3 separate regions of the Homo sapiens genome follow, and all the other regions are linked to region 3. The links come from fine-mapping of genetic effects on gene expression. A gene starts in region 3. Each other region holds a variant in brackets. All regions are shown on one strand. Distances are between the middles of the regions. Region 1 has its middle 27 kb from the start of DDX47. Region 2 has its middle 5.5 kb from the start of APOLD1. Region 3 holds the start of DDX47 (DEAD-box helicase 47).

Evidence for each region.
Region 1: its variant is fine-mapped to the expression of DDX47 in whole blood (TOPMed, PIP 0.95).
Region 2: its variant is fine-mapped to the expression of DDX47 in whole blood (TOPMed, PIP 0.99).

The regions. Positions count from the first base shown.
Region 1 is chr12:12,834,822-12,845,717 of GRCh38, forward strand. It overlaps the pseudogene RPL37AP9. Among named protein-coding and RNA genes, the nearest start is that of DDX47, 27 kb to the left of the region's middle. RefSeq lists an enhancer at 66-1,265. The variant A/T (reference allele first, on the strand shown) is at 5,411.
Region 2 is chr12:12,774,701-12,785,596 of GRCh38, forward strand. It overlaps a transcript of APOLD1 not described here. Among named protein-coding and RNA genes, the nearest start is that of APOLD1, 5.5 kb to the right of the region's middle. The variant G/A (reference allele first, on the strand shown) is at 5,984.
Region 3 is chr12:12,806,837-12,817,732 of GRCh38, forward strand. DDX47 (DEAD-box helicase 47) reads left to right here and starts at 6,510. Exons shown (of 12, transcript NM_016355.4): 1 at 6,510-6,618; 2 at 7,295-7,388. The coding sequence starts at 6,532. RefSeq lists an enhancer at 6,337-6,646.

The DNA of each region.
Region 1 (10,896 bases), 28 kb after region 3:
ATAAAACTGATTTATATAGTATTCATTGTATGCAGTTGCAGTAACAATGGCTTCATGGTACTGGCTAGCCTAGTTTTACTTCCTCTGTACAGAGCTGAGTGAGGGTGAGAATGAGGAAAACACCTCTCTATCTTATGAAGGGGTCCTAGGATCCTAGTGAGAGGGTTTCAGTTGGATAGGCTATTTCAGGCTTAAAGCAGGCCCAGAATTCCAGGGAACCATGAAGCAGGTTCTCTGAGGGCACTCTGAGGGGATTGTAGTTGCTAAGAGGGGCCTAGACCAACTAGATCATGATTATTCTTTCTCAGTCTCTCAAAAAATGCAATGAATATCCCAGAACTTGGCTGGCTCTTTAAGGACATCTTGCTTACAGACAGAGTGTTTTCCAAGTAGCTTTCTGCCTGCAGAGGCATCCACAAACCTAAATTGGAGACTTTATCTACCTTGGGTCCCTCAAAACCCTGGGAAATAGGACCAGAAAGAACCACAGGCTGTGGTGTTGGTTACAGAAAATGAAAGGATCCAAGTTATCAAAAGTGGGTAACAAAGCAACATCAAGAAACTGTGTCCTTAAAACTAAGAGAATATACAAGACATTCTAATCCACATGGTTCTTAGGGTGAAATCTAGCCTCTGGGCAGGTAAGAAATCAGGGTGTGAGTCACCCCTCTTTAGCTGGAATGACAAGAGACTCAGACCATAACTCTAGAGATTGAAGGGTTACCCACACCCGCATTCCTTTTCATGCCTCACCTATCCCAGGTATGCACTAAAACTACCGCTAAAAATAACTGCAGAAACTTGAAGTCTGGGAAATAGCACTGAACAGTCTCACCTGAAGTGAAGAGCTGATTGGTGCCAAGTGGAAAGGAGACAGGAAGAAAATGGGCTCCTCTGGAACCATGCAGTCTCTAGGAGGTGGGCCCCAAGGTCTGCTCAGAGTCTTGGAGCTTTTGTTTGCTCGTAGCCATCCATCCCCTTATACCATCCAAACACAAAGGATGTCTCCTGTCACTGTCACCCTTCAATCATCTGCCAGTGCCGTCAAAGAGGCCGGAAGGAGCAGGAGGAATTGGGAAAGGAACAGGTGGGGAAAGTGTAAGTCATCGGACTGTTCACTGTTGCTGTGTGACCTTGTGGGAGTTACTAAACCTCTCTGAACCTTGAGTTTTCTCATTTGTTAATATGGAAAGAAGACCGTCAAGCCTATCTCTGTCACAGAATCTTTTTTTTTTTTTTTTTTGAGATGGAGTCTCTGTCACCCAGGCTGAAGTGCAATGGTGCAATCTTGGCTCACTGCAACCTCCACCTCCCAGATTCAAGCAATTCTCCCACCTCAGCCTCCCAAGTAGCTGGAATTACAGGCATGTGCCACCATGCCGGGCTAATTTTTGTATTTTTAATAGAGGCAGGGTGCCATGTTTGTCAGGCTGGTCTCGAACTCCCGACCTCAGGTGATCCATCTGCCTCGGCCTCCCAAAGTTCTAGGATTACAGGTGTGAGCCACCACACCTGGCCTGCCTCACAGAATCTCGAACCTAGTTTTTAAAATTCTGTTTCTTTCCTCCTTCCCTTCCAGTGTCCACCATATCCTAGCCAGTGTGCCAGATACTAGGAAACCAATACTGAAAAAAGAGTCAGATGCTATTTTTGCTGAACTTAGCCTTAGTATTGTATAGTGATTGTGCTTCCTACTAGGCAGGGACCGCGCCTAATTTGTGGATATTACTAATATCATACAGGGCCCATACGCAGTAAATGTTCAATATCTGTCATTTTCTGAAACCTAAGATGTGTCAGGCGGCTTGACCTGTATTATTTCTAGTTCTTTGAACAATCCCGAACAGTCGATATTATTGTTCCCAATATGAGCTATGGAGCCAGTTTGCCAAATCGGCCCCTGACTAACTGTGAGACTTTGGACAAGTTGTTAAACCTTCCTGTGTTTCAACCTTCTTATCTGAAGACACACAGTTATAGTACAGCATTGTGAAGTTAAATGAACTATACTGTGGCTCATGATAACAATCAGTAAGTGTTAGTCATTATAATGATCATTAATTGTGGCTTTTAGCATAGATGAAGACTGGCAGCGTACCCAGATCATACAGCTGGTAAAGGGCTAAGTAAAAATTTGAAGCCAAATTGGATTCCAAGCCTCTGCCCTTTACACTAAATACACTGTTTGTTATGTGTGTGTGTGTGTGTATGTATATATGTGTAATTCCATATTACTCATGCAGTATGTTCCACACAACAAGTAAGTACTATGCAAATGAACTTTCAGGTTCCAAGCTATTTTCAAATTGGCAACAGGCAGGTAAGAAAATAAGACATTCTTGTTTTCACCAGTAGATGGCAGAAGGAAGAAAAGACCACTCCGGAGAGGGAAGGAGTTTTAATTTGGAGCCGAGTGATTCACAGTGGGCTGTGGCTGAGGCACAGGGGCAGATGAGGCAGACTCCTTGTATGACTACAGTGGAGGACAGTCCCACTGGAACTAGGGGTCAGGGGTCAGGGTGGGGAGGAGAACTACCTACAGGTATGTGAAGGGTGTCAGCCTTCAAGAAGATCTGCTAGGTTGACCCAGAGGATGGGGACTGGGAGCCCCGAAGTAAAGGCAAGTTCAGATGCACTTAGAAAAAAAGGTCGCGTTCCTCTGTCGTCTCTACTGCGCGGTCCCTGGCTGTGGACCCTCCTCGTCAACTTCCAAACACTTGGTTCTTTTCCAAAGCCTGCCTTTCCCTCTGGGATGTTGATGAAGCCACTTGCTTTGTTTGCTCCTTTCCCCACCCCCTACCCCAGTCTGTAAGTCAGGAATACTCTTTCCCCCGCCTATCCCAATACACGTTGTTTGTGAGCCACCGACCCCCCTCACTGCTTCCCTCTCTCCTCACTGCGTATCCATCCAGTAGGCTTGGTCCACAGCCCGTGCTCCTGTATCAAATAAGCTTGGTGCTGGGTAACCTGTGAGCTGCTTGTTCGTTCATTTTATCCTAGAGACATGTCCTTCAGCCCAAAGTGATGGGGAGTTGTCCTTCTGGGTCCAAAAGAGTAGTAGCAGCAATCAAGCATGGTGGTCATTTATACTGGGCCAGCTCTCACTGATGTGATGCTGGCTCTTGTCCTCACACATTCTTTTGGGGGAGGAGTCCACTGGTAACTCCTGATATCTTAGAAACTCTCTTACCCAAGCTATTAAATCCAGTGCCAACTTAAAACCAACATCCCTGTCGCGATTTCTGGGTGGGTCAAGAGTGGGGACTATCCAAAGATTTCTTATTTGACATACGTCTATTTGTACATTTGTAATGGTTGTTGGTTTGGTTTTAAATAAGTGATTCTTGGACAGGGCATGGTGGCTCATGCCTATAATCCCAGCACTTTGGGAGGCCAAGGTGGGAGGATTGCTTGAGGCCAGGAGTTTGAGACCAGCCTGGGTAACACAGCAGAACCCCATCTCTACAAAAATAATAAAAAATTAGCTGGGCATGGCGGACCCCGCCTATGGTCCTAGCTACTTGGGAGGCTGAGACAAGACAATCATTTGAGTCTTGGAGGATGAGATTGCAGTAAGCTATGATTGTGCTGCTGCGTTCTAGCCTGGGTGACAGGGTAAGACCCTGTCTCTAAAAGGTAAATAGTAAATAAGTGATTCTTTACAATAGGGCTGAGGAGAGCCTCCTGTGTGTTAGGAGTTTGCCAGGTGACTGGCATATATTATTTCTTTTACTGGAGGTCATGAGTCATTTCTCGAGGAAACTGCAGATCAGAAAAGCTTGTTTGTCATATTTTAAAACTGCAGCCTAGTCTTTTTTTTTTTTTTTTTTTTTGAGACAGAGTTTTGCTCTTGTTGCCCAGGCTGGAGTGCAATGACGTGATCTTGGCTCACCGCAACCTCTGCCTCCCAGGATCAAGGGATTCTCCTGCCTTAGCCTCCCAAGTAGCTGGGATTACAGGCATGCACCACCATGCCCGGCTAATTTTGTATTTTTAGTAGACACGGGTTTTCTCCATGTTGGTCAGGCTGGTCTCAAACTCCCGACCTCAGGCGATCCGCCTGCCTTGGCCTCCCAAAGTGCTGGGATTACAGGCGTGAGCCACCACACCCGGCGCAGCGTAGTTATTCTTTATTCTGTCTTCCGTGATTTCTTAAATTCATCCAAGGGTATTCAGGAATTTTGCAGGGTGAGCCTATGCTGACAAAATGAAATTGAGCACCATAGTTTTGTGTTTTTTACTAAATCTCCAGAAAATAAAAGTGACCTTTGGACTGCCAGAAGATTCACGTGAAACCTCACATAAAATCAGCATGTGAAGACAGAGAGGATGTTGGTGATCACCAGAATCTGTTCATTTTTCCTTTGAAGATACTTAAAGGAAGTATGTGTATGTTTACAGGTTTGTATATGTTTTAGAGTGTGCCCACAAGCTCTTAGCCATTTAAGACAGACACTAAAGACTCCCTCAATTAAAAAAAAAGTTCAGTGGAATTTTGTTCATAATATCTGCCTGAGAAAAAACAGGCCCTGCTTTTCAGTCTTGAAGACTGAAGGCTCCTTTTTGAGTAGAGTAGTGGGGGCTGGGTGCAGTGGCTCATGCCTATAATCCCAGCACTTTGGGAGGCCGAGGTGGGCAGATCATTTGAGGTCAGGAATTCGAGACCTGCATGGCCAACATGGTGAAACCCCGTCTCTACTAACAATACAAAAATTAGCTGGGTGTGGTGGCTCGTGCCTGCTAATCCCACTACTCGGGAGACTGAGGCAGAAGAATCACTTGAACCCAGGAGGTGGAGGTTGCAGTGAACCGAGATCATGCCGCTGCACTCCAGGCTGGGCAACAGAGTGAGACTCCATCTCAAAAAAAAGAGAAGAGTAGTGGGAGTAGTTAGGCGACAGAAGTATGCTTTAGAGAAGGCTGGCTAGCCTAACTCATTTTCCTAATAAATGCCAGTGATGCCCCTAACCAGGCACTAGGGTCTATTGTCAGTGCGGCGTGTGGGTAAGTCACACTTTGTACCTCACCTCTTCAGCATCTATGTCTGGGTGAACTCAGAATTATGTGTGATCACCAAGGGCAGCCTTGAAGGGGACGAGAGGGCCCTACAAGGACAAGTCTCTGACTGAGAGGGTTATGTGGGAATGACAGAAGAGTGGCCCACCTGGGCGGGTTGCTGGGAGAGAGAGGAAAGGGGAGAAGGGTGTCATGTTCAGATTTACAGCCTGTCCATAAACTTCATGGTTTTATGGTACTCAGCCATGTAATCATTTCCTGCCCCTTCTCCTACTGTGTTCTCCAGAGTCCCTGAGTCACTCTTTGGCCAGTGGCCTGCAGCCAGGGCTCATTTCTCTTCTCTATGGCCTAAAGAAGTTGTTTCCGTGCCCTGGGGCACGGGCATCCAGGGACA[A/T]CATATTACAAGGCGGTCTGTTGGGGTGTGGAAGACACTAGAACCTTTATCTGTATTTAACCCATCCATTTCTAATTTATATTTTTTATGTGTTATAGTGTAAAGTTTTGCTGTAAACAATTCATAATAAATATGTATGGATATGGCATATTTGTATATATTTATTATGTATGTAATTGTTTAACATATGTGCAAGTATGTTAAAGATATTATGTTGAATAGGATGCATATCAAGAAGGTTTGGCCAGCCTGGCCAACATGGTGAAACCTCATCTCTACTAAAAATACAAAAATTAGCCAGGCATGGTGGTGGGCACCTGTATTCCCAGCTACTCTGGAGGCTGAGGCTCGAGAATCGCTTTAACCCAGGAGGTGAAGGTTGCAGTGAGCCGAGATGGCACCACTGCAGTCCAGGCTGGGCAATAGAGCAAGACTCGGTCTCAAAGAAAAAAAAGTAAGTAAGTTTAGGACAATAGCCCTAGGGAATTATGCTGATAATGGTCCTTTTTTATTATTACATAAGTTAACCCATTTATTAAAGGCTAGTGATGTCTCCAATGGTGGAGAAACATCTGGTCTTTCAATTCCTTCAGTCTTCTGACTGTAGACTTTGCTGTGACGGCAGAAGTGGTATTGTAGGTTCAGCCACCACCAGCTACTGTCTTCATGCACGAACCACAGTGCCCGACCCCCATATCTCGTCTTTTCATCTTGGTTTTGTCACAGAAAGAGCAATTGTACTTGGCGTGCTAGCCGGTTTCAATTTTCTTCACCATTTTCTGGAAGGAGGCACCATAGCGGATCCTGTATTTACCGACAATTCCAACTTTATTGGTGCATTTAGCCATGTCAGTGCAAAGTTTTGAGCCCGCAATAATCTTTAAAAGCGTTATTTTATGTTTCATTATGAAATTAACTTTTCATTATGAAATTAACTAACTATAGCGGATCCTGTATTTACTGACAATTCCAACTTTATTGGTGCATTTAGCCATGTCAGCGCGAAGGTTTGAGCCCGCAATAGTCTTTAAAAGCATTATTTTATGTTTCATTATGAAATTAACTTTTTAAAAATTTTTTTTGAGATGTAGACCTGCTCTATCCCTAGGCTGGAGTGCAGTGGTGTGATCTCAGCTCACTACAATCTCTGCCTCCCGGGTTCAAGCGATTCCCCAGCCTCAGCCACCTGAGTAGCTGGAATTACAGGAGTGCACCACCACGCCCAGCTAATTTTTTGTATTTTAGTAGAGACGGGGTTTTATCATGTTGGCCAGGATGGTCTCGATCTCCTGATCTCATGACCCGCCTGCCTTGGCCTCCCAAAGTGCTGGGATTACAGGCGTGAGGGACCGTGCCCAGCCCAACTTTTTTTTGTTTGTTTGTTTTGAGACAGAGTCTCACTCTGTCACCAGGTTGGTATGCAGTGGCGTGATCTTGGCTCCCTGTAACCTCCACCTCCTCGGTTCAAGCGATTCTCCTGCCTCAGCCTACTGAGTAGCTGGGATTACAGGTGTGCGCCACCACGCCCAGCTAATTTTTGTAGTTTTAGTAGAGATGGGGTTTCACCATGTCGGCCAGGCTGGTCTCGATCTCTTGACCTCATGATCCATCCACCTTGGCCTCCCAAAGCACTGGGATTACAGGTGTGAGCTACCAAGCCCAGCCTTTTTTTTTTTTTTTTTCTTTTTTTGAGGTGAAGTCTCACTGTGTTGCCCAGGCTGGAGTGCAGTGGTTCAATCTTGGCTCACTGCAACCTCCATCTCCCACGTTCAAACTGAGTGGGGCCTTCAAATTCTGGTTTCAAACCAGGATGATTCTCCAGTTCCTTGAGAGTTTATAGGTGTGTGAGCTATTTTCACTGTTTCCAGAGCCTAATAGAAACCTTCTATTTACCCCAAATAAGCCTGCACAGGTCAACTTTAAGGTCAAGTGTTTTGCATTCGTTAGAAATGTTAGGAAATTGGAGTGGTCCTCTCATGCTGATCAGAATGTGCGGTTACGGCCTGAGTGTGGAGTGGGCAAGTGCTGCTTTGGGGCCTGACTTGGGTCCCAACCCCCTTCTATTGTGAGGGAGTTCTGCGGGAGGAAAAGTGGGGAACACCACCTCCCATAGCCCCTGAACAGCACCAACTTTAGACCTGGGCAAGTGAGACCCTTCCCCAGGCCTGCTCCTCAGGAATCCCTGCACTTTGGAGTGTGTTTCTCAAAATGTTCCAGCTTTCCCTTCTGTGCTTGGGACATGCCAGGGCCAGCAGGTAAGAGAGTTTCAGTTGCTTCCAGCCTTTCCAATATTTGGTGTTGTCAGGCTTTTTGATTTTAGCTATTCTTCACTGTGGAAATTTTTTCCCATGGAAAATCTCTCTCTCTCTCCCTCACCCTTCTCTGTCTCTCTCTTTCCTTCTCTCTTGCTGACTTCTCTCTTTCTTTCTTTCTTTCTCTCTCTCTCTCCTTGTCTCCTCCCCACAGCAGATTTACTGAGGTATCAAAAACATGGCTGGGTGTGGTGGCTCATACCTGTAATCCCAGTACTTTGGGAAGCTGAGGCAGGCGGATCGCTTGAGGCCAGGGGTTCGAGACTAGCCTGGCCAAAATAGCAAGACCCTGTCTCAAAAAAAAAAAAAAACCCATACACATACTGGATTTGATAGGTTTTGACATATATATACATCCATGAAGCTGTGACCACGATGAAGATAATGAACACATCCATCATCCCCAAAGTTTCCTCATGCTCCTTGTCATCCCTCCCTCCTGCCTTTCCTTGCTTCCTCCTCCCTGCCTGACACCAGGAAACCACTGATATGCTTTCTGTCAATATGCAAAGTAGTTTGCATTTTTAGAGTTTTGTATAAATGGAATCATTTCTTTTTTGTTTTTTAAGACAGGGTTTTACTCCTGATACCCAGGCTGAGGTGCAATGGTGTGATCTCGGCTCACTGCAACCTCTGCCTCCCAGGCTTAAGCGATTTTCCTGCCTCAGCCTCCCAAGCAGCTGGGAATACAGATGCATGCCACAGCACCTGGCTAAATACAGTGTATTCTGTTTAAAATCTGACCTCTTTCACTTGGGATAATTATTTTGAGTTTCATCCATGTTGTGTGTTTCAATAGTTCATTCCTTTTTATTGCTCAGTAGTATTCCATTACATGGATATATCATAATTTGTCTATACTTTTCTTTTTTGGTAATGTCTTTGGCAAGATTTGGTATCAGGGTTATGCTGGCCTTATAAAATGAATTAAGAAGTGTTTCCTCGGCTGGGCGCAGTGGCTCACGCCTGTAACCCCAGCACTTTGGGATGCTGAGGTGGGTGGATCACCTGAGGTCAGGAGTTTGAGACCAGCCTGACCAACATGGAGAAAACCTGTCTCTACTAAAAATACAAAATTAGCCAGGTGTGGTGGCTCATGCCTGTAGTGTAGTCCCAGCTACTTGGGAGGTTGACGCAGGAGAATCGCTTGAACCTGGGAGGCGGAGGTTGTGGTGAGCCAAGATCGCACCATTTCACTCCAACCTGGGCAACAAGAGTGAAACTCCGTCTCAAAAAAAAAAAAAAAAAAAAAAAAAAGTTTCCTCATTCTCTACTTTTTGCCCAGGCTAGAATAAAGTGACTTGATCTTGGCTTACTGCAACCTCCGCCCCTCAGGTTCAAGTGATTCTCCTGCCTCAGCCTCCTGAGTAGCTGGGATTACAGGTGCCCACCACCATGCCCGGCTAATTTTTGTATTTTTAGTAGAGACAGGGTTTCACCATTTTGGCCAGGCTGGTCTCGAACCCCTGACCTCAGGTGATCCACCCGCCTCAGCTTCCCAAAGTGCTAAGATTAAAGGCATGAGCCAACGCGCCCGGCCTTTCCTTTTTTTGAGACAGAGTCTTGCTCTATCACCCAGGCTGGAGTGCAGTGGCAAGATCACAGTCCACTGCAGCCTCCAATTCCCCAGACTCAAGTGATCCTCCCACTTCAGACTCCCAAGTTGCTGGGACCACAGCTGTGCACCACCATACTTGGCTAATTTTTGCATTTTTTTTTTTAAGAGAGAGGGTTTCACCATGTTGTCCAGGCTGGTCTTGAACTCCTGGGCTCAAGTGATCCTCCTGCCTTGGCTTCCCAAAGTGTAGGGATTACAGGCATGAGCCACTGCACCCAGCCCATTCTCTATTTTCTGAAAGGTTTGTGTAAAAATTTTTTTATAAGGCCAGGCACGATGGCTCACGCCTGTAATCCCAGCACTTTGGGAGGCCGAGACGGGAGGATCATGAGGTCAGGAGATCGAGACCATCCTGACTAACATGGTGAAACCCCATCTCTACTAAAAATACAAAAAATTAGCCAGGCATGGTGGCGGGTGCCTGTAGTCCTAGCTACTCGGGAGGCTGAGGCAGGAGAATGGCGTGAACCCGGGAGGTGGAGCTTGCAGTGAGCGGAGATCATGCCACTGCATTCCAGCCTGGGCGACAGAGTGAGACTCCGTCTCAAAAAAAAAAAAAATTTTTTTTTATAAACAAAATATTTTTCATACACAAAAGATTTTTCATTCTGAATTATACAAAAAACTTCAAACAAGTACTGTTTATAAGATCCACTAATGTTATATTTTTAAATAATATGATTACATAATAGCTTTCTTTAAATCTGAGTTCACTCAAATTTGATGGTTTTTTTTTTTTTTGAGACGGAGTTTCACTCTTGTTGCTCAGGCTGGAGTGCAATGGTGTGTTCTCGGCTCACTGCAACCTCTGCCTCCCAGGCACAAGCAATTCTCCTGTCTCAGCCTCCCAAGTAGCTCGGATTATAGGGATGCACCACCATGCCCGGCTAATTTTTTTGTATTTAGTAGAGATGGGGTTCCATCATGTTAGTCAGGGTGGTCGTGAACTCCTGACTTCAGGTGATCCACCTGCATTGGCCTCCCAAAGTGCTGGGATAACAGGCGTGTGCCACCATGCCCAGCCTCGTTTTATCTTTACTAACTATGATTACCAAGTTGTAAAAACAAAAAATTACAACCACATTCTTGGCAGAATTTTGATGTCTGATAATACCTGGATATTGGACAGCATCCAATTAAAACATCAGTATAGCTTTCATGCATTAAATAAAGTATTTTACTCAAGTTCCCAAAACAAACTTGAGTATGTTGGGTTTGAATGGAAGCAAAAGGCCAAGTTAAAATATGAAAGCAGATGGTTTTTATTTGGTAGGAGCTGAAATGAATATTTGCGTTCTAATCAGACATCTGTGCCATGTGGCATTTTCCAAATTTTTAAGAGTCTACCAGTCTAAACACTTCACTGCTTTTACCACCTTTGCTTTGCTCTTCTCCTTTCTTTCCTCTCATTTTGCCTTCAGACTTTTTCTTTCCTTTTTTTTTTTTGAGACAGAGTCTCGCTCTATTACCCAGGCTGGAGTGCAGTGGTGCTATCTTGGTTCACTGCAACCTCTGCCTCTTGGAGTTCAAGTGAGTCTCATATCTCAGCCACCCAA
Region 2 (10,896 bases), 32 kb before region 3:
GTCCCAAATCATATGTCATCAGGGAATGCAAATCACAACAGCAATGAGGTACCATTACATATTGATTAGAATGGCCAAAATCTAGAACTGACGATACTAAATTCCCTGATGAGGATGTGGAGCAGCAGAAACTCTCCTTCATTTCTGGTGGGAATTTGAAATGGTATGATGAGTTTGGAAGACAGTTTGGCAGTTTCTTACAAAACTAAACATACTCTCGTCATAAGATCCAGCAGTCATGTGCCTTGGTATTTACCCAAAGGAATTGAAAACTTATGTCCACACAAAAAGCTACACACAGATGCTTACCACAGCTTTATTTGTGATTGCCAAACATCAGAAGCAACCAAGATGTTCTTCAGTAGCTGAGTGAATAAATGGTGGCATATCCAGACAATGGGACATTATTCAGTGCCAAAGAGAGATGAGCTATCAAGTCACGAAAAGATGTGGAGGAAATTTAAGTGCATGTCTGTAAATGAAAGAAGCCAATCTGAAAAGGCTACATGCTGTGATTCCAACTAATGACATTCTGGAAAAGATAAAACTATGAAGACAGTGATCAAAGATCAGTGGTTGCCAGGGGTTAGGAGGGAGGGAGGGATGAACAGGCGAGGTGCAGAGGATTTCCAGGGCAGGTAAACTACTCTGTATGAGACAGTAATGGTGGATACATGTCATTAAACATTTTTCAAACCCACAGAGCGTACAATACCAATAAGGAACCCTAATGTAAACTGCAGACTTTGGGCCAATGTAGGTTCATGAATTGTAACATAGGTACTGCTCTGTGGGCACTGGCAATAATGGGAGAAGTTATGCATGTGTGAGGGCAGGGAGCACGGGGTGTCTCTGTATGTTCCACTCAATTTTGTTGCAAATCTAAAACTGCTCTAAAAAATAGTCTAACAAAGCAAGTTTGGAGAGGAAAATAGATTACATAAAATCATTTTCTTACCTAATTCAAGAGCAAATAGAGTTGAAAACTCACCATAGAAACTACATTTTTTAAAAAACGATTGGGTACAATGGCTTATGCCTGTAATCCCAGCACTTTTGGAGACCAAGGCGAGAGGATTGCTTGAGACCAGGAGTTCATGACCAGCTTAGGCAACATAGTGAGACTTCATTACTACAAAATTTTCTTTCTTTAATTAGCTGGGTGTGGGGGTGTGCACCTGCAGTCCCAGCTACCCAGGAGGCTGAGGTGAGAGGATTGCTTGAGCCTAGGAGTTCAAAGTTACAGTGAGCTATGATCATGCCACTGCACTCCAGCTTGGGTGACAGGGTGAGACCCAGTCTCAAAAAAAAAAAAAAAAAAAAAAACACAACAAACAAACAAAACTAAATTAATAAAAGCAAATAAGGAGAATAATAATGACCAACTTTCAGGGTGTTAGAAGATACACCCCTTGCTTCATCATATTGCTTAATGTGAACCGACTGAATTCTACTAAAAATAGACTTTAAACAAAGTTAGAAAAGAAAACAAGTATCCAACATTCTCTCACCTATAACAGGCATATTACAAATTAAACCATTCAAATAGTCTAAAAGCTAAGGGAAAGCTTAAGATTTATGATGCCTCTGTAGATACAAAACAAGCAGGTGTTATAATCCAGGCTGCAATACTGTTGTAGATGTCTGAGAACTCGGAAGATAATGACTAAGCCTGAGAAAGGGCCAGACAAAGGTAATTGTTTCCCAGTATCCTGGAAGATAAGAGAATCTTTATGGCTACTGGAGGGATGTGGACTCAGCTGCAGTCTTTCTGGCACCAGAAGAAAAGGCATGTGGTAAACTAGATATTTCGTAATAGGGCCCATGGGGCAAACGATTCTATATTAATGATATAGTGTAGGTTTCACCCACAGGATCCCAGGTGTTCTGTGCAGGTGCGCACACCTGTGGAGGAGGAAGCGGAGCAAACTTTAAACTGCACACATTAGGAAGCCTGGGACAGTTAAAGAGTTCCCAGCATCAGATATGTCCAAAAGAAAAGCAAGTAAGATTAGCAAAGATACATGCCTTTTTCCCTCAGCAAAAAGCAATGAAGGTTGAGTCTCCCTTTAAAAATAAAAAATCGGATTATGAAGCAGTAACATTCAAAATCATATTATATTGAATTAAAAACAGGTAAACTGTTTAGTGGAATAGATTTCCTAGAAGTAGATATTAACAATGGTAACAAATCAATATAAGACTAGCCAGCAATAACACATCTATAGAAAAGTGTATTTTTTAAATAAAAAATGATCAAAATTATATTCATCTGAAGAAGAATTAGCACCCGCTATGCACTGTATATAATAAACTCCAGGTGGGTCAAATTAGGCTAAAATGTTTATTGTGGATATTTTCTTTTTAGTTTTATCTAACCATCAGTTTCCCTTTCCCTGACATAGCAATCCCATTGTAATTTCCTAGTGTGAAACTTCTCCCTGAGTATATATGTAATGTGGGTGGGAAGGTCAAGTTCTTTTACCATCTCCCACTTGAAAGCTGAAGGCCATTCACCCCTCTTCTCCCTGCCCAGTGCAGACAGTAGATGGGCACTTGACCTAAGCTCAGCCAACCCAGTGGTCACTCCTGGAACTTTGATTCTTAAACTGATACAAGGACAAAAGGAAAGAGTGGTTGGTCAGTTTCATCACACAGGCTGTTCCAATTACAAAACGACTGATGTCCTTTCAGTTTCTTGGTTCTTTAGAACTCCATGGTCCTTTCCCATGTTCAAGTATGTGTTCCCTCAGTCTCATAGCAATAATTCGCTTATATTAGCCAGAGCGAGATTTTTACTACAAGTTGAGTATTCCTTAACCAAAAGGTTTGGGACTAGAAGTGATTTGGATTTCAATTTTGGCAGGATTTTAGAATATTTGCATTATATGTTTACCAATTGAGCATCCCTAATTAAAAAATCTGAAATCCGAAATGTTCCAGTGAGCATTTCCTTTGAGCATCACTCTAAAATCCAAAACTTACTGAGCACCAGTGTGACGCTCAAAGGAAATGCTCACTGCAGCATTTCAGATTTCAGATTTTTGCATTAGGGAAATTCAACGTCTCAACCTGTGTATCCAGATGGAGACGGCAATTCCAAAGAACAAACTGAAGAGGAAGAGGGTATAGGAGGTGGATGATGGTGTCACAGTTCACCTGGAAATATCTTCTCTACAAGGAAAGGTGTTTTTTTTTTTTTTTTTTTTTTTTTTTTTTTTTTTTGTTGTTGTTGTTTTTTGAGACAGGGTCTCACTCTATCACCCAGGCTGGAATGCAGTGGTGCAGTCTCGGCTCACTGCAACCTCTGCCTCCTGGGGCTGAAGCGATCCTCCCACCTCAGGCTCCTGAATAGCTGGGACCACAGGGGTGCACAACCACACCTGGCTATTTTTTTTATTTTTTATTTTTTTGTGGAGACAAGGTTTTGCCATGTTCCCCAGGCTGGTCTTAAACTGAGCTCAAGCAGTCCGCCAGCCTTGGACTCCCAAAGTGCTGGGATTACAGGTGTGAGCCACTGTACTTGGCCAGGAAAGCATCCTGACAATGATCTGATGGTTTACATTTCTTCTGCTTGCTTCTCCCTGTGGGAGGCATATACCTCTCTATCTTTTTGCTTATTTTATTTTACATTTTTGAGACAGGGTCTCAGTCTGTTGCCCAGGCTGGAGTGCAATGGTGTGACCATGGCTCACTGCAGCCTCGCCCTCCTAGGCTCAAGCACTCCTCCCACCTCAGCCTCCCAAGTAGCTGAAACTACAGGTGCACACCTCCTCGTGTGGCTAATTTTTAATTTCTTTTTTTTTTTATAGAGATGGGTTCTCACTGTGTTGCCCAGGCTGATCTCAAACTCCTGGGCTCAAGCAATCCTCCTGCCTCGGCCCCCCAAAGTGCTGGGATTACAGGAGCCAGCCAGTGTGCCTAGCTCCTACCCCTTTAATGTTGGGTTGGCCACAACTTGATTGGCCAATAGAATGCCAGTGGATGTGATGGCTACCCTGTCTGAGCAGCCTTAGGAATGATTAGTCAATTTTGCTTCCAAAACATATTCTGTACTTTATCCACTCCATTGCATCCTACCAACATTAGCCAAATCTGAGATAATCTCTGTCAACTACTTCAATAACCTTCTAACTGTCTCCTGGCTTTAGTTGTGTACCTCTGAGAACCATCCTTCACACAACTGTCACACAACAATGTCAAATTAACCTTGTAAGGCCACAGATGAAAGCCTTCAATGGCTCCCTCTTTCCCACATGGCACTGGAAAGCTGTCATGACTTGTCTTCTACCTACCCCTTAAGCCTCATCCTTTGGCCTTCCCTGCTTCCCACTTTATGTTCAGCAACACTAAACACCCTGGACACTCCTCCATTCCTTTGTCCATTCTGTTCCTTTGTCCAGACTGCCCTCCTCTCTCTCCTAATTTTTGTCCAAATAACTTCTGTTTGACTCTCAAGATTCAGCTCAATATCAGTGCTCCCAGAAAGTCTTCCCTAGTACTTCCTGGGCATGTATTTGCCCTGTGCTTTCTTGGTACCAGCACACACCCCGGCACTTCCCCACCTTAAATTTAAATGATATATTCTGTCTTTTTCTCTTCCAATAGATTTGCCGTCTCCTGGAGGGCAGGGACTATATCTTATTTAGCTTTTGGTCCCCAGACTCTAGCCTGATGTCTGGCACACAGTAGGTGTTCAATACACATTAGTGGAGCTGAAATCGAACAAATTAAACATTAATATAAGCAAATTCTGAAAGCCTTCTGCCTCTATTCTTACAAAAGCTGGTGGCATTATAAATGGGTTCTTCTGGAAAGCAATATAGCACTATATAACAAAAACGATGAAGATGGTCATTCTCCTTGACTTGGTATTTTCCCGTTTGTGAATACTCCTCAAAGAAATAATCCAAAGGAAAAAAAATGTACACAGATGTCCTGGCAACTCTAGTTATAACAGTGAAAAACCTGGAAGCAATCCAAGTGTCTAACAGGGAAATGACTAAGCAAACAATGGGATTATTACATAGCTATTAAAAAATGACAGAGGTGAGGACTATGTCAACATAGACAAGTGTGTATCTATCTGCAGGAACGTTAAGTAGAAAAAAGAACACAGGCTAGTGTTTAAACACTAGTGATTAAGGATGTGTGTGTACATTAACAAAGATTGGAGGCTAATTTGGAGGAATGAAAATGGCTGGAGTGCAGTACTTGTTGAGTCTTTATTTTCCTGTGCAGTTCCATGAATTTTTGACAATAATACTTGAGATTCCATGCAATATAGATATCCTAGAGGTCTTCTGCAGAATAAGTATTCTAAGTTATACCAAGCTGTATAGTCCAAGAGAAAATTTTATGTTAAATTCTTATAAAATTGTTATAAAATAATGATATTTCTTTAAGTGAACAAAGCATTTTTCTTTAGTTAAATTCAACAAGCAACTATGAGAGCTTGACTATGTTCTAGAGCACTTACATTCTGGGGAAATTCAAAGAAATCATGGGCAAAAATCCTCAGGTGAATATGTGTTATTATTTTAATTTGCTTTTTTTTTTTTTGAGACAATGTCTGGCTCTATTGCCCAGGCTGGAGTGCAGTGGTGTGATCTCGGCTCACTGCAGCCTCACCTCCCAGGCTCAAACCATCCTCCCAGCTTAGCCTCCCAAGTACCAAGTAGCTGGGACTACAGGCACACACCACCGAGGCGCCTGCCTCAGCCTCCCGAAGTGCTGGGATTACAGGCATAAGCCACTGTGCCTGGCCGAATTTATTTTTATTTTGGTGAATGTACATATTAGAACAGATGACAAAGGAAAGTCTGCAAGACCTTTGGACTAAACCTCACATTTACAAGTTGTCTCAATTTTATTTTTTATTTCAATTTTATTTATTTATTTATTTTGATACAGAGTCTGGCTCTGCCACCCAGGCTGGAGTGCAGTGGAGCAATCTTGGCTCACTGCAACCTCTGCCTCCGGG[G/A]CTCAAGCGATCCTCCCACCTCCACCTTCCCAGTAGCTGGGACTGCAGGCACAGGCCACCACACACAGCTAATTTTTGTAGTTTTTGTAGAGATGGGGTTTTGCCATGTTGCCCAGGCTGGTATTGTATTCCTGGGCTCAAGTGATTCTTCCACCTCAGCCTCCCAAAGTGCTGGGATTGCAGGGTCACCATGCCCGGCCTGAATTTTATATTTTTGATGTCTCCAAAAGAGGTCCTATATTTAGTCACTGAGATATACAGTTAAGTATTAAAAGGAAAAAGTCATCATCACATAACTTTAAACTTGTGCCACTTTTCCACTTGGTGCACTATGAATTAATATTTTATAAATCCTGTGACTATATTGTGAATAGCAAAATACTGACATAAGATATATTACATTGCAATTAAAAGAAATAAGCCACAATTTTTTATATTCCATTATAGAATTTCTTCATTTTTAAAAATCAACTGAGAGGCTAGGCACTGTGGCTCACACCTATAATTCCAGCACTTTGGGAGGCCGAGGCGTGTGGATCACCTGAGGTCAGGAGTTCAAGACCAGCCTGGCCAACATGATGAAACCCCGTCTCTACTAAAAATACAAAAAATTAGCCAGGGGTGGTGGCAGGCACTTGTAATCCCAGCTACTTGGGAGGCTGAGACAGGAGAATTGCTTGAACCTGGGAGGCGGAGGTTGCAGTAGGCTGAGATCGCGTCATTGCCTAGGCAACAAGAGCGAAACTCCGTCTCAAAAAAATAAAAAATAAAATAACTGAGAGTCTCAAAAAATGGAGGTGGCCCAGTCCTCTGAAAGGCCTTGAGCGTAATTATCACTTTATCTTTTTTTTTTTTTTTTTTTGAGACGGAGTCTCGCTCTGTCGCCCAGGCTGGAGTGCAGTGGCATGATCTCTGCTCACTGCAAGCTCCACCTCCCGAGTTCACGCCATTCTCCTGCCTCAGCCTCCCGAATAGCTGGGACTACAGGCGCCTGCCACCATGCCCGGCTAATTTTTTGTATTTTTGGTAGAGACGGGGTTTCACCATGTTAGCCAGAATGGTCTCGACCTCCTGACCTCATGATCTGCCTGCCTCGGCCTCCCAAAGTGCTGGGATTACAGGCGTGAGCCACCGCGCCCGGCATACTTTATCTTTAAAATGTAATAGTTTTAAGTAGGGGCCTAAAGCAAATGGGTTGTTGATAACTGTATAAACACCTCCTAACATAGTCCTTTCCGCTAGACTTACTGTTTCTGCTGCCATGTAACTGGTGGTCAGAAAACTACCAGTTCTGGCTGGCCATGGTGGCTCACGCCTGTAATCCTAGCACTTTGGGAGGCCGAGGTGGGCAGATCACCTGAGGTCAGGAGTTTGAGACCAGTTTGGCCAACAATGTGAAACCCCATCTATACTAAAGATACAAAAATTAGCTGGGCATGGTGGTGCGTGCCTGTAATCCCAGCTACTTGGGAGGCTGAGGCAGGAGAATCGTTTGAACCTGGAAGGCGGAGGCTGCAGTGAGCCGAGATCGCACCACTGCACTCCAGCCTGGGCAACAGAGCAAGACTCCGTCTCAAACAAACAAACAAACAAACAAACAAACAAACAAACACTACCAGTTCCTAGAGCAGTGGTTCACAAACCTGGCTGCAGGTAGGAATCACCTGTATTCTCCCAGATCCCACTCCAGACCTCTTGAATTAGACTCTCCAGGGCTGGGGCCTGAAGATTCCTATGCTTAAAAAGCTCTTTCTCGTCCTTCCTACACTGAATTTCCTCATGGTTCGAGGACTCAGAATTCAAACTAGTACAGCTAATGCCGCGGTTCAGCTGCATCAAGAGTTTAACACAGTGACAACTTGTCTCTACAAAAAGTCAAAAAATAAGGCAGGAGGATTGCTTGATCTCAGGAGGTCAAGGCTGCGGTGAGGCGTGATGGTGCCATTGCACTCCCACTTGAGTGACAGAGTGAGACCCTGCCTCAACAAAACAAAACAAAACAAAAAAAGAGTTGAACAGATCTGAAGGCTAGTTTGAAGGCCAACTACCATTTTCAGTGTAGTCTCTCTAGGGTGATGTGTTGGAAGTGCCCAACAAACAATTTAAAAGAGAAGTCTGAGGATGTGGTCCACAGATTTTTTTTTGTGGAAACTGACCACACAGAACTTTTGAACAAAATGCCTTCATTTGTTCCTAAAATTTGTTATTGTGTCTTTACTATATGAAATTAAACAAATGCTGGCTGGGCATGGTGGCTCATGCCTGTAATCCCAGCACTTTGGGAGGCTGGGGCAGGTGGATCACCCGGGGTCAGGAGTTCGAGACCAGCCTGTCCAACATGGCGAAACCCCGTCTCTACTAAAAATACAAAAATTAGCCAGGTGTAGTGGTGCACGCCTGTAATCCCAGCTTCTCGGGAGGCTGAGGCAGGAGAATTGCTTGAATCTGGGAGGCGGAGATTGCAGTGAGCTGAGATCATGCCACTGTACTCTAGCCTGGGCGACAGACTGAGACGCCGTCTCAAAAATAAATAAATAAATAAAAGTAAACAAATGCTGAATTGAATCGCTAAGTTCAAGTGTCAGTTCTTATAAACAAGGTGAAGTACCAGTTGGGTTTTTTGTTTGTTTGTTTGTTTGTTTTTGGAGACAGAGTTTTACTCCGTTACCCAGGCTGGAGTGCAGCGGTGTGATCTCGGCTCACTGCAACTGCTGCCTCCCAGGTTCAAGTGATCCTCCTGCCTCAGTCTCCTGAGTAGCTGGGACTACAGGAGCACGCCACCACACACAGCTGTTTTTTTTGTATTTTTAGTAGAGACGGGGTCTTACCATGTTGGTCAGGCTGGTCTCGAACTCCTGACCTCAGGTGATCCACCAGCCTTAGCCTCCCAAAGTGCTGGGATTACAGGGGTGAGCCACTGCACCCGGCCCCAGTTGGTTTTTTTTTGTTTTTTTTTTTTTTGCTTTTTTTTTGAGACAAGGTCTCTATCATCCAGGCTGTGTTGCAGTGGTACCATTATAGCTCACTGCAGCCTTGACCTCCTGGGTGCAAGTGATCCTCCTGCCTCAGCGTCCTGAATAGCTAGGACTACAGGTGTGAGTCACTATGCCCGGCCAATTTTTAAATTTTTTGTAAAGATGGGGTCTCATTATGTCAACCAGGCTGGTCTCGAACTCCTGACTTCAAGCGACCCTCCCTCCTCTGCCTCCCAAAGTGCTGGGATTATAGGCATGGGCCACCATGACTGGCCAAAGTACCAGGTTTTTATGGGCAGTAAAACTTTAGCCCAAACTGTCAATTAACTCAATTTTTTTTGCCTCCATAAAGAGGCAAATACAAAGAAAATGGGCTTTCAACACAGAGAAAAACAAATTCCAAGATATGGGCTGAGGTCAGTATACACGCTGTCTATTTTCCTCTACCTTCTGGTTCTTCATCCCACCTCTGTACTATGATATTGATGCTCTGAGGAAGACCCTGTATCCCAGCAATATTCCTCATCTATAAAATAAAGATTTAATTGTGTTCCTCTAAACCCAAAACACACAGGATGATGTCCAGGGAAGTTAGAGGAACATGTGTCAGCTGAAGAATCAGTGGTATGTTCCCTCTTGTCTACCTCCCCAATTCGCGCTGGCCCACATCCCATTTGGAGTGACCATGTCTATGGAGATAGAGGAGGATATTCTTCCACTTCTAACCTCAAAAGGACACACTGGAGGCATCTAGATTGAGGTTACAGCTATCCTTTGAGGAGCTGTAACAAGAATATTTGGAAGTGGACCAAATCTAGAATAATCAAGTTTGAAAGGACTATGGTTGTCCTTTCTGTTGCTACTGTTGTTATACTGTGTTGATAAATACAAAGTATAGTCATAAAGGTGGGGGATTTAATCATGTTCCAGAATGATACGGCTGTTAAGGCTTTCCAGGTAAGCCAGAGAGTTGAGATAATCCTTATTCAAGTGAGAAACGAATTTGGCCCTCCTTATCTGGAGGAGAGGGTTAGAAGGACGATGGATGGATTTGGGGACATGTAGTAGGACTGAATTCCTAGGCTGAGCTCCAACCACCTCTGAATGCCCCAGAGATATCTATGTTCCATCTGGTCTGGTCTGCAGCAAGTCCACAGAAGCTACATTCACTTTTCTGTGCTGAATTATCAAAATAATTGCCCTTCAGCCCATGCCTCATGACCCTGTAGACAGAATCCACTCATTTCCCTATCACATGGGCTACAATTGCTACTTCAAATGAAAACCTGGGAAGCCAATGCCCTATTGTGGTTGAAAGTGTACAATTAGCTCCTCATGCAGCCTGACCCCACTGATTTTTCTGATGCATGTGACCTGGAGTGTGCCCTTTCTGAGACCGCCAATGTCTTCTCCACAGCTGGAGATGCCCAAAACTGCACGCAGCACTTCCTGTGGGTGTGGCCTTGCATTCTTAGGACTGCAGGGTACCCGCTGCATGCCAAATGATCCCAGGCTCCAGCCACTCACAGATTCACAACGCTTTTAAAAATACAGCAGTGGAGTATGAGCGGCTATGTCAGATATGAGGGTTTTCCACCCCCTCCCTTTTCTTTTAAAATATGATTTTGTAATGGTGGCCTCAAGAAACACTATAATTGGTCAGCCTGGGGTGCGTTTGAAGGCCTTCTCTATCGCGTCATTAGCTATTCTCAGGAAAGGCAGGGTATCCCACTGGGAGAATGACAACACACTTGTTTCAAGTTAGGGAAGAGCCTGTGGTTCTCTTCCTGCGTTCAGGGGAAAGCGAACACACAATGTTCGTTTCCTAAATACGGGATGTGCTGTGCTGGCAGGTCATTTTCCACCATGTCACGTCCTTCTAGATGAAGGCAGCAGGGGTCATGACAGGAAATGGCAAATTCTCAGAATGAGACAAGG
Region 3 (10,896 bases):
GACGAGAATTGGTTAGATAACTAAGTAAATTGTACTTGAACTGTCTCTTTTCTAGATTTTATGTAGACTGCTGTCTTCTCTCTCTGCCTGCATTATTACATCATCTGTGTATGTCCTTTCTTCATCTGAACATACATATTCATAACAAGTTACCACTCACAAGTCTAAAGATAATTTCCTGACTGATTACATTTTGCATGGGCTCCTTCTTGAATAAAGGGCACTTTGTCATAAGTGAGCTAGCTTCCTCCAAAATAGACTTCTGGGTATGCAACTTCTCGGCCATTTCGTGTGGAAACTGATAACCAGTTTTTGTTTGAGTCCTCCACAGAACTCTTGTCCCTAAGTTGGGGGCTCACTTTACTTTTGCACCAGGAACCACCAACATCCCAGCCTGCTCACCTCCACAGTGGTCCTGGGTTCCTGGCCTGGGCAGGCTTCCTCCACGTTCCTCACACCCTTCCCTTATCTGTGGGGTGCCGTAGACAGAATGCCTAGAGCCACAATGCTTTTACATATCTCCAAAAACAGGTTTTCATTTCTTTCAAAATCAAAAGAAGGCCAGGGCAGGGCGCGGTGGCTTATGCCTGTAATCCCAGCACTTTGGGAGACTGAAGCAGGTGGATCACTTGAGATCAGGAGCTTGAGACTACCCTGGCCAACATGGTGAAATCCCACCTCTACTAAAAGTACAAAAATTAGCTGGGCATGGTGGCACGTGCCTGTAGTCCCAGCTACTTGGGAGGCAAAGGTTGCAATGAGCTGAGATCATGCCACTGTCCTCCAGCCTGGGCAACAGAGTGAGACCTCATCTCAAAAAAAAAAAAAAAGGAGGGGGGGCCAGGTGGCTCACACCTGTAATCCCAGTGCTTTGGGAGGCCGAGGTGGGAGGATCACTTGAGTCCAGGAGTTCAAGGTTGCAGTGGCACAATCAGAACTCACTGTACTCCAGCCTGGGCAACAGAGAGAGCCTGTTTCTAAAAACTAAAAAAAAAAAAAAAATTTGTTAACTCGGAGAACAAGTTTTAATACATAACATTAATATATTTATCTGTATACTAATGCAGTTGTAAAATATAATTTTTAATACTTTTTTGTGGAAGAAGAGGTGCATGAAGGCAAAGGAGTCTGGGGCTCATGAAAACCTTTGAGTAAGATGGGGTCAGGCCCTTCGACCTCTCCTTCTGGAGCCCATATATTGTTTCGGGCTTGCTTTTCCTCCCTCATCATTTAGAGTGTTTATTTAGATTTCCTCTTTAACCTTTCTCATTGTTCTGAAAGTACAGGATATGACGTGGCTCAGTGACTAGAATGGACCTCTATTATTTCCATTCCCAGAGTATAAATATCCAAACTGCTTCAACCTGATAGGAATAGTCAAAAGCAGACAATCATCTCGGCTACTGCAGGCTTTCCTCTTTGGAACCCACCTATGGTCATCCTGTCAGTCTGACATGAATCTGGTCACTGGGGTAGGTGCTGTTCCAAGGCCCAAACTTTGCTGGCAGGAACAGACTAAAGAACTGAGCAGCGCTGACGCTGCTGTCACTGCATGCCACATCCTCTTCACGGCCCTCGATACCCTGGGGACACTGACACCAGAGGAAGTTTTAAAAACAGCCTGTGTCTGAATTATCCAAGAACAAACAGAAAAGACTTGCTTGGCTAAAATCAACAGGGTTTGATGTTACAACTGCAGTTGAAAGGCTTAAATCGGTTCTCTTTAAAGCAGCAGGCACCCCCAGACATCTTATGGGTGATTCCTTTTCTTTTCTGTAACGCATTCGAACAAAACTCAGGTAACTTTAGAAGGTATATGATATGCAAATTTATAGACCTTCCAGTTGTTTCCATCTGAGTCCCCTTTTCAGGCTTTTTATCTCTGCTTCCCCTTGCTCCCCAATCAGGATCCTCTCCTCTCAGCTCTTCTTTCCCATTCCACTCTCCTAAATGCAATCACAGGATGAGTCAAGGGGAAGCAAAATAAATACTGCAGCTGCTTTCTCTCTTTGTTTTTACAGAAAAGTCTGTGTGGCTGCTTTTGAAGAAGAAAGCTGCTTTCGATTATGTAAGATGATGCTCTCTTTGGTAAAAGTTTTGGTCTGGTCTCAAGAGACTTGGCTTTTTTTTTTTTTCTTTTTGAGACGGAGTCTTGCTCTGTTGCCCAGGCTGGAGTGCAGTGGCATGATCTCGGCTTGCTGCGACCTCCACCTCCCAGGTTCAAGCAATTCTCCTGCTTCAGCCTCCCGAGTAGCTGGGATTACAGGCTCACAATACCACACCCAGCTAATTTTTGTATTTTTAGTAGAGACGGGGTTTCACCATGATGACCAGGCTGGTCTTGAACTCCTGACCTCAGGTGATCCATCTACCTCAGCCTTCCAGATTGCTGGCATTACAGGTGTGAACCATTGCCCCCAGTCTAAGAGGCTTGGCTTCTATTCTTGTCTCTTGTGATCTTTACTCTTTCTTTACTCTTGTGTCTCTTTACTCTCTGGGACTAGAGTTCCTCCTCTGTCAAAAGAGGAATACAAACTCCCCAGCCGGTCTATGTAACAGAGAAGAGGAAGAGGAAGAGCCCAATTTAGCTGGGTAGATTCTCTTTGGGAGAAGTTGACTTCCCCTTATCCCAAAGCATATGTATTGACTTTGGAGACCATCTAGAGTGGCCCAATTCCAAGTCATAGGAGAATGAGATGGTAGCCATGAGGAGGGCTAAATAGAGAGATGGAATGCCTTAGACTGGGCTAGCATAATTGTATGCCTGTGACTGCCCAATAGAATCAATTTCAGGGTGACCTGTTGTCTTATGCAGTGTGTATTTTCTCTCCTTTCCTGTAACTTGGAGTGAACTAATGTAAAAAGACCAAAGTCCCCAGCCTATTCTGCAGCAGTGTAATCTTTTTTTACTACATATATATGTGTATATATATATATATATACATATATATATAAAATTAAAAAATATATATTTTAGACAGAGTCTCACTCTGTTGCCCAGGCTGGTGTGCAGTGGCACGACCTCGACTCACTGCAACCTCTGCCTCCCAGGTTCAAGCTATTCTCCTACCTCAGCCTCCAAAGTAGCTGGGATTACAGGTGTCCGCAATTATGCCTGGCTAATTTTTGTATTTTTAGTAGAGACAGGATTTCACCATGTTGGCTAGGCTGGTCTTGAACTCCTGACCTCAAATGATCCACCTGCCTTGGCATCCCAAAGTGCTGGGATTATAGGTGTGAGCCACTGTGCCCGGCCAGGAATGTAATCTTAAATATGGAAAAACCTCACTCCCTAAAAAACAAAGAGTGAAGTCCTCTCTGGTCTGCTATGGTTCCTGATCCCAATGCTTTGCTGTTTTACTTCAGCCAGGCAGCATTTCCAGAGCATCCACTTCTTGCCAGGGCCTGTGCTTAGAGCCAGGGGTATGAAGATCATCCCTTGTCTCTTAGATTGTTGGGGACCAGCCTCAACACCACCCGTAGGGTACCCAAAGTCCGGTGGCAACAAAGGAATGAGAAGAGACAGGTTAAGAGTGCATAAAGAGTGGGGGCCGGGGGGCCAATTGCAAAATGGAGGCTGCAAAAGGCCCAGAGTTCTGGTCTTCACTCTATTTATTGAGTACAATCCCTTAGATCTAAGAAGCAGATGTTTAGGGTGAAACAGTGAAAGGGAGGCAGTATGTCATAGGCGTAATCTATAGCAATGGCTGTTTAAATGAGTCTCCTTTGTTCTCAAACAGCATATCTTTAACTTATCGAAGAGTAGCTAGTGGGAGTGGGCTTAACTAGGAGCCTGAACGTCTGTCCACATTTCAATGCTTCAAAGGAGTGTCTTTCTCCTTGAACACAGTGTTTATAGATAAGAGAGCAGGTTGCGCTCAGAGCATGGGAACATAATGGCGATAAGAAGGCTTTCCTCCTCAGAGGCCTTTTGTGACTTGCCACAACTTATTGTCCCATATTTTTATGGCCCGTTTATGCAGGCACCCCACAAGCCCTTTTCCCAACATAGATCAGGGGTCCCCAGCCTCTGGGCCATGGACTGGTGCCAGTCCGTGGCCCGTTAGGAGCTGAGTTGCACAGCAGGAGGTGAGTAGCAGGTGAGCAAGCATTACTACCTGAGCTCCGCCTCCTGGTAAATCAGCTGCGGCATTAGATTCGCTTGGGAGCACAATCCCTATTGCAAGGGATCTAGGTTGCGTGGTTCTTATGAGAATCTAATGCCTGGTGATCTGTCACTGTCTCCCATTACCCCCACATGGAACCATCTAGTTGCAGGAGAACAAGCTCAGGGCTATCACTGATTCCACATTATGGCAAGTTGTACAATTATTTCATTATATATTACAATGTAATAATAATAGAAATAAACTGCACAATAAATGTAATGTGCTTGAATCATCCTGAAACCATCCCCGCCCCAATTCTGTGCAAAAAATGTCTTCCACGAAACCAGTCCTTAGTGCCAAAAAGGTTGGGGACCGCTGTCTTAGATGGTCTCCTTTTCTCACTCTTTCTACAGCCTATCTCCATATAGAGTTAGAGTAATATTTTAAATGTGTAGATCATGTCTCTTCCCTGCTCTAAACCCCCAGTGGCTTCCTTCTGCATTTAGGATAACATCCAAAACCCCAGACCTTTTACAACAGGGTCCTGCAGAGTCTGAGCTGAGCCCAATTCTCTGACCACATCCTACCCTTTTTGTTGTTGAGACACTGCTGTGATGCCTAAATCAGGGCCCTTTTTTAGTTGTGGTGGTGGGGAGGTCGGCAGGCACATTGAGTTGAGTTCCTCACAATTCTCAGGTCAAGCACACTGGCATCACAAGTCTCCTCTCTTGCTTTGTGTATTTATTATCCTTTTTTTTTTTTTTTTGAGACGGAGTCTTGCGCTGTCACTCAGGCTGGAGTGCAATGGCATGATCTCAGCTCACTGCAACCTCCGCCTCCGGGGTTCAAGCAATTCTCCTGCCCCAGCCCCCCGAGTAGCTGGGATTACAGGCACAGGCCACCATGCCTGGCTAATTTTTGTGTTTTTAGTAGAGACTGGATTTCACTATGTTGACCAGGCTGGTCTCGAACTCTTGACTTCAAGTGATCCATCTGCCTTGGCCTCCCAAAGTGCTAAGATACAGGTGTGAGCCACCGCGGCCGGCCTATTGTCTTATACACTTAATTCTTTTATTCCCAATTCCCAGTTTTATTCTAATTCTTCTCCCTCTGCAGGCAACCATTCTAAAATATTTCAAGTGTATCTTCTGTTGGATGTGTTTTAGCAGAATGTGATATCTGTGGGCCTATATTTTAATATACTTGATATATTTTATGCTTTTCTCACTAAGCACTAGGTTTTTCAGATCTAATCATATTGTTAAGGGCATGTTTGTAGACACCATGTTCACATTTTAACTATGCATTTTCCCAGTGACGGACACCAGATTGCCCCCAACTTCCCATCCTCAGGAATAAAACTGCAACGAGCACCCTGCGCAGTGTGAGACCCAAGTGACAGGCCACAGGAGGGCACTCGCTGGCCATGGGGCATGCAACATACAGCTCTGAATTTGCTGCTTTCCAGAATAGCCTTAGTAGCTTCACAGTCTTGGTACTTGGAATTCTCTCACTCTGGAATGATTATCTCCTGGGATCTTAAAGCGTTTTCTCCTGCTCAACAGTGAGGTCTTAACTCAAATATCACTGTCTCAGAGAGGCCTTCCCAATCTCACAGTTATCCCCACAACCCACCCTCCCCAGGTTACTCTGTAATTTTTATGTGAACAGGGTTTCACTCTGTTGCCCAGGCTGGAGTACAGTAGCACCATCTCCACTCACTGCAGCCTCAACTTCCGGGGTCAACTGATCCCTCAACCTCAGCCCCCTGAATAGCTGGGATTACAGGCGCATGCCACCATGCATGCCTGACTGATTTTTGCATTTTGCAGACACAGGGTTTCGCCACGTTGCCCAGGCTGGTCTCGAACTCCTGGGCTCAAGTGATCCGCCCGCCTCGTCCTCCCACAGTGCTGGGGTTACAGGCGTGAGCACACCCAGCTACTTTTCACAATTTGAAATGCTCTGTGATAGCTTATTTATGATCTGTCTTCTTTTTCTTCACGAGGGCAGGGGTCGCTGTCCTATTCACCAGCCATCTAGCATAGCCTTAGCAAATGGTAGGTTCTCAACATTATTGAATAAAGTAATGACATAATAAAAAAATAGTATTGTAATATCAATCCGTTCCAAACTCTATGGTTAGAAAAGCGGGGAACATAACTGGCGACACACGTAGGGAAGGCTCTTTAAAAGGGACCTAAAGGTCAACTGGAGTCCCTGGTGATCAGCCCCTTCTGCACTCGGATCTATTCCGCAAGCCTACGCGCCCATATTCACTGGGCCCCACCTGCCTAGCGGACGGGTGCAATCCCCGGCAAGCCCGCAGGGGGCGCGCAGAGCACGTCGTCCGGGGAGAACTAAAACTACATTTCCCAGCATCCCGCGCGCCGCAGACCCACTTCCGGAGACCTCACACAAGATGGCGGCACCCGAGGAACACGATTCTCCGACCGAAGCGTCCCAGCCGATTGTGGAAGAGGAGGAAACTAAAACATTTAAAGACCTGGTGAGAATGGATGACGCTGGCTTCTTTTATGTACTCTGGTGCTAGGCTCAGGGAGACCCCAGGTACCTTAGATCCCGCTCTGATAGTGTACAAAAGCATCTTGGGGCCTAGCTTGGGTTTTCCCCAGAATTTCAGAGGGCTGGGTTTCGGACGTGCTCTGAGTTTGGGTGGTGGGAGGGCTGCTGGGCCCTGAGACCCCCTATTTGCCCTATTCGCCACTTTAGTGTGGCAACGTTTGTATGTGCATCCAGGAGGTTGTACATATGGGGAATGGAATTGGTCTCTTTATAACTGGAGCTTTGGAGTCAGATGAACCAACCAGATTTGAATTTTGACACAGTCTCTTACTGAGGACAAGTTGTTACCTCTCTGTGTTTCTCTTTCCACATCTGTAAATTGGGGATAGTAATAAGTACTTACCTCGCAGAATTGTTGTGACGATTAAATGAGATGATACATGTAAAGCACCTGGCCTTGGCCTTGGTGAGCAGAAAGTGTTCGTTAAGTCTTGAGCTACTGTCTCATGGTATAGTTAAAGAGTAGGCTCTGAGATGCACAGTAAATACCTTTTAAATCAAATACAATGGTTGTACATGATGGGTCTGACAGTCAGTTAAGTAGGAGGGAGGTAGGGGTGTGCTGTTCTTGGCTAAGGTATATTTTTCTGAATTCCAAGGGTGTGACAGATGTGTTGTGTGAAGCTTGTGACCAGTTGGGATGGACAAAACCCACCAAGATCCAGATTGAAGCTATTCCTTTGGCCTTACAAGGTAGGTTGTATGACTTCGTACAGATTTAATATAAAGTTATCTCAATTAGATACCCCTTTTGAAAGCTGTTGCTTGCATACTTCAAGTGAAATAAGGATATGGTCACTAAAGGTACAAAGTTTGGGTAATGGTATTTGAAAATGTCATTCTCCAATTTTACTGAGCTTACTTTCTGTCTTAATAGCTGAAAGGGTTTGTTCTCTGCCACAGATGCTGACTTTAAGGAAGCCCTAGGTTAAAGTTAAAGTATATTAACGACAATCTTGGTAGACTTTATGCATCAGTGGGCGCACACTTAGGGAAGGATGCCTGGAACACATATGTGTGTCTTGAGGAGTTGAGAATTCTTGCTGTGAGCCATGTTTATCAGATTTGTAAAACAGTGGTTAAAGCAGATTGATGGCTACTGGAACTGAAACTAATGGGATGAACTTTTTTCTTTTTGAGATCTTTTTTTTAAGATGGAGTTTTTTTTGAGATAGAGTTTCGCTCTGTCGCCCAGGCTGGAGTGCAGTGGTGCGGTCTTGGCTCACTGCAACCTCTGCCTTCCAGGTTCAAGCAACTCTCCCGCCTCAGCCTCCCAAGTAATGGATTACAGGCGCATCACCATGTCCGGCTAATTTTGTATTTTTAGTAGAGATGGGGTTTCAGCATGTTGGCCAGGCTGGTCTCGAACTCCTGACCTCAAGTGATCTACCTGCCTTGGCCTCCCAAAGTGCTGGGATTACAGGTGTGAGCCACCACATCTGGCTGTAACAGGATGAACTTTAATAGGAGTAGAAGTAAAGTCCTGCTCTTAGATTCCTAAAGTACCAACTTTACAGGATTAGGGTGGGTGATAAAAGAGGCCCAGAGGTCTTAGTTAACTGAAATCTATTAAGATCCTCAGAGAGAGTGAATGTAATCATAGCAATTGTTATAAGAGGGGTAATGTGGCTAATTATTGTTAGTATTAATGTAGCTATTACTGTATTACTATATTATTAGTGATTAATGTAAGCTATAATTATTACTCATTAGTAATTAATGTAGTGATTATTATTGATAATAATTGAAAGATTTAATGATTTGAAGAGCTGTCATGTGGAAAAGGGGTTAGACTTACTCTACAAAATTCCATTTGCTCTTTCCATAAATAGTTACTATTTGTTGTAAATGTAAGGCACTGGAGGTTAACAGTCTGTCCTCTCCAAGAGTCTATAATCTATTAAAGAGATAATTATAAATTTATTACAAGTTGAACAGGGACCTAAGAAAGTTACATTCAGAGTGCACTGAGGGAGAAGAGATTACTTCTAATTAGGATGGATTAGAGAAGATTTATTTCATTTTATTTTTGGCTGGGGAGGTTGGGAAGACATGTGAGCTGAACCTTGAACACTGACTTTAGAAGGATTTAGACATTCAGATATGATGGGAGGGGAGGACTTTCTAGGCATAGGGAACAGCATGAAAAAAAGCCAACTGGAAAACATGGGCATGTATGGAGATTTGCAAGTACTTAGCAGAGTGGTGAAAAAGTTTAGTAAGGTGATTGGGGCCGGATTATGAAGGATTTGAGTGCTGGGTCAAGGAATTTGGTCTTCGTTTCATAGGCAGTGGGGCATTTTTGGAGATGAAGGATTTAGAGTTGTACTCTTGGAAGATTAATCTCATAGCTGTGAAAGATCATTAGAAACAAGAGACTGAGTCTGGGAAACCAATTAGTAGGTCTTTGTAATGATTTTTGCAATCAATAATGGGTAGGGTGGTGGTAGAATGAAAAAGAAAATGTTGGAAAAAGAATCATTATGATTTTACAACCAGTTAAGCAAGTGGAAGGCAAGGAAGGGGTGGGGAAAATCTAAGTTTCTAGGCTGTATGTTTAGGGCATATTATTGGTGTACCACTGATACAAAAAAGGAACGGGGGAAAAATGCAGGAAAGATGAGTTCAGTTGGAAGTAATTGATTTTGGATATCAATGAGATAGAGTTGACCTTGTGGGAGGGGAATGGGGAAATGTTGCTCAGGGTACGGTTTCAGTTAGCCAGGATGGATAAGTTCTGAAGATCTATTGAATAGCATGGTGACTACAGTGAATAATGTTTTGTGTATTTGAAAATTGCTAGGAGAGTGGATCTTAAATGGTCTCCCCACAAAAATGACAAGTATGTGAGGTGACAGATATGTTAATGAGCTTGATTTAATCACTTCACAAAGTATACATGTATCTAAACTTTGCATTGTATACCATAAGTATAATTTTTTGTCAATTAACAAAACTGGGGGACAATAAAAAAGGAAAAAAATACCCAGTTGGAATCCTGGGATTGGAACTTGATTGAGAGGCCAGAGCTGGATATACACACTGTATCCAAAGAGCGGTTATAGCTGAGATTGGAAATGGATTAGATTGGCAAAGATGACAGAGGAAAATTGGAAGATTCAATAGAGGGTTGAAAATCATGAGAGTATAGTTTCACACAAATTAGGGAAGGGAAACTGTTTCAAGGAGGGATTAGTAAACACTTCAAACTTGTGCAGAGAAGTTTGGAGGATAAGGACCGTATAAAGGCCAGTGGTGGGAAAGAACTATCAGCGGCCCAGTGTTACTTTTAAATAGCAAGAAGCGTTCATGCATTTTAACTTTTCCAGCTTGCCCTACAGTGTAGGTGAGAAGGAGTCAAAATAGCTGGCAGTAATCCTAAAATTATTCTGATGTTTTCAGCCATAAGTTTAAATTTGATGCAGAAAAGAATAGGGAGGGGTCAGTGGAAGATTACTAGGAACTGACAGAAATGATCACCATAGAAATGTCTTTATCCTTATTCTTGGGTTTGTCTCATTCTAATGAATAGTTTATAAATGCTTCATTTGAATCTATAGAAATGATTCAAATAATCTGTTTGTTTTTGTTGCTGTTGTTATTCGGTGAAAATAACTTCTAAATTTGAATTTGGGACTACTGACGTTTTCAGTTTCTGCAAAGTTACTGAGCCCAGATTGTCCGCTGTTCTTAAACCTTATAACAATGCTGAATGGTAGTTACGGATAATTATTTTATTAGTGAGGAAATTGAGACTCAGGGAGTTAAGTCCTTTGGCTAAGGTCACCTAACTAATTATTGCTAGAGCCTGAATTTGAACATAGAATCTTATAGCTCAAAAAACCTCTATTAATGGACCTGCATCAAAGTTTGTTACTATCAAGAGATCAAAAGTTGTTTGATGGGCATGGTGGTTCATGCTTGTAATCCGAGGACTTTGGGAGGCTGAGGTGGGAGGATTGCTTGAGACCAGGAGTTTGAGACCTGCCTGGGTAACACATTGAGACACCATCTATTTATGTCTGTTTCAGAGATCACTTAAAGTTGTCCTCAAGGAATTTCAAACAATTTATTAGTGGCTGCCATATAGCAAGCGCTTATGTTCGGTGCCAGCAATGTGGCAGGTCTATATGACAAAATCTATTCTGCTCTTATGGAGTTTATGCATTCTGGTATATTCTCTACAGGTATAAACACTGAA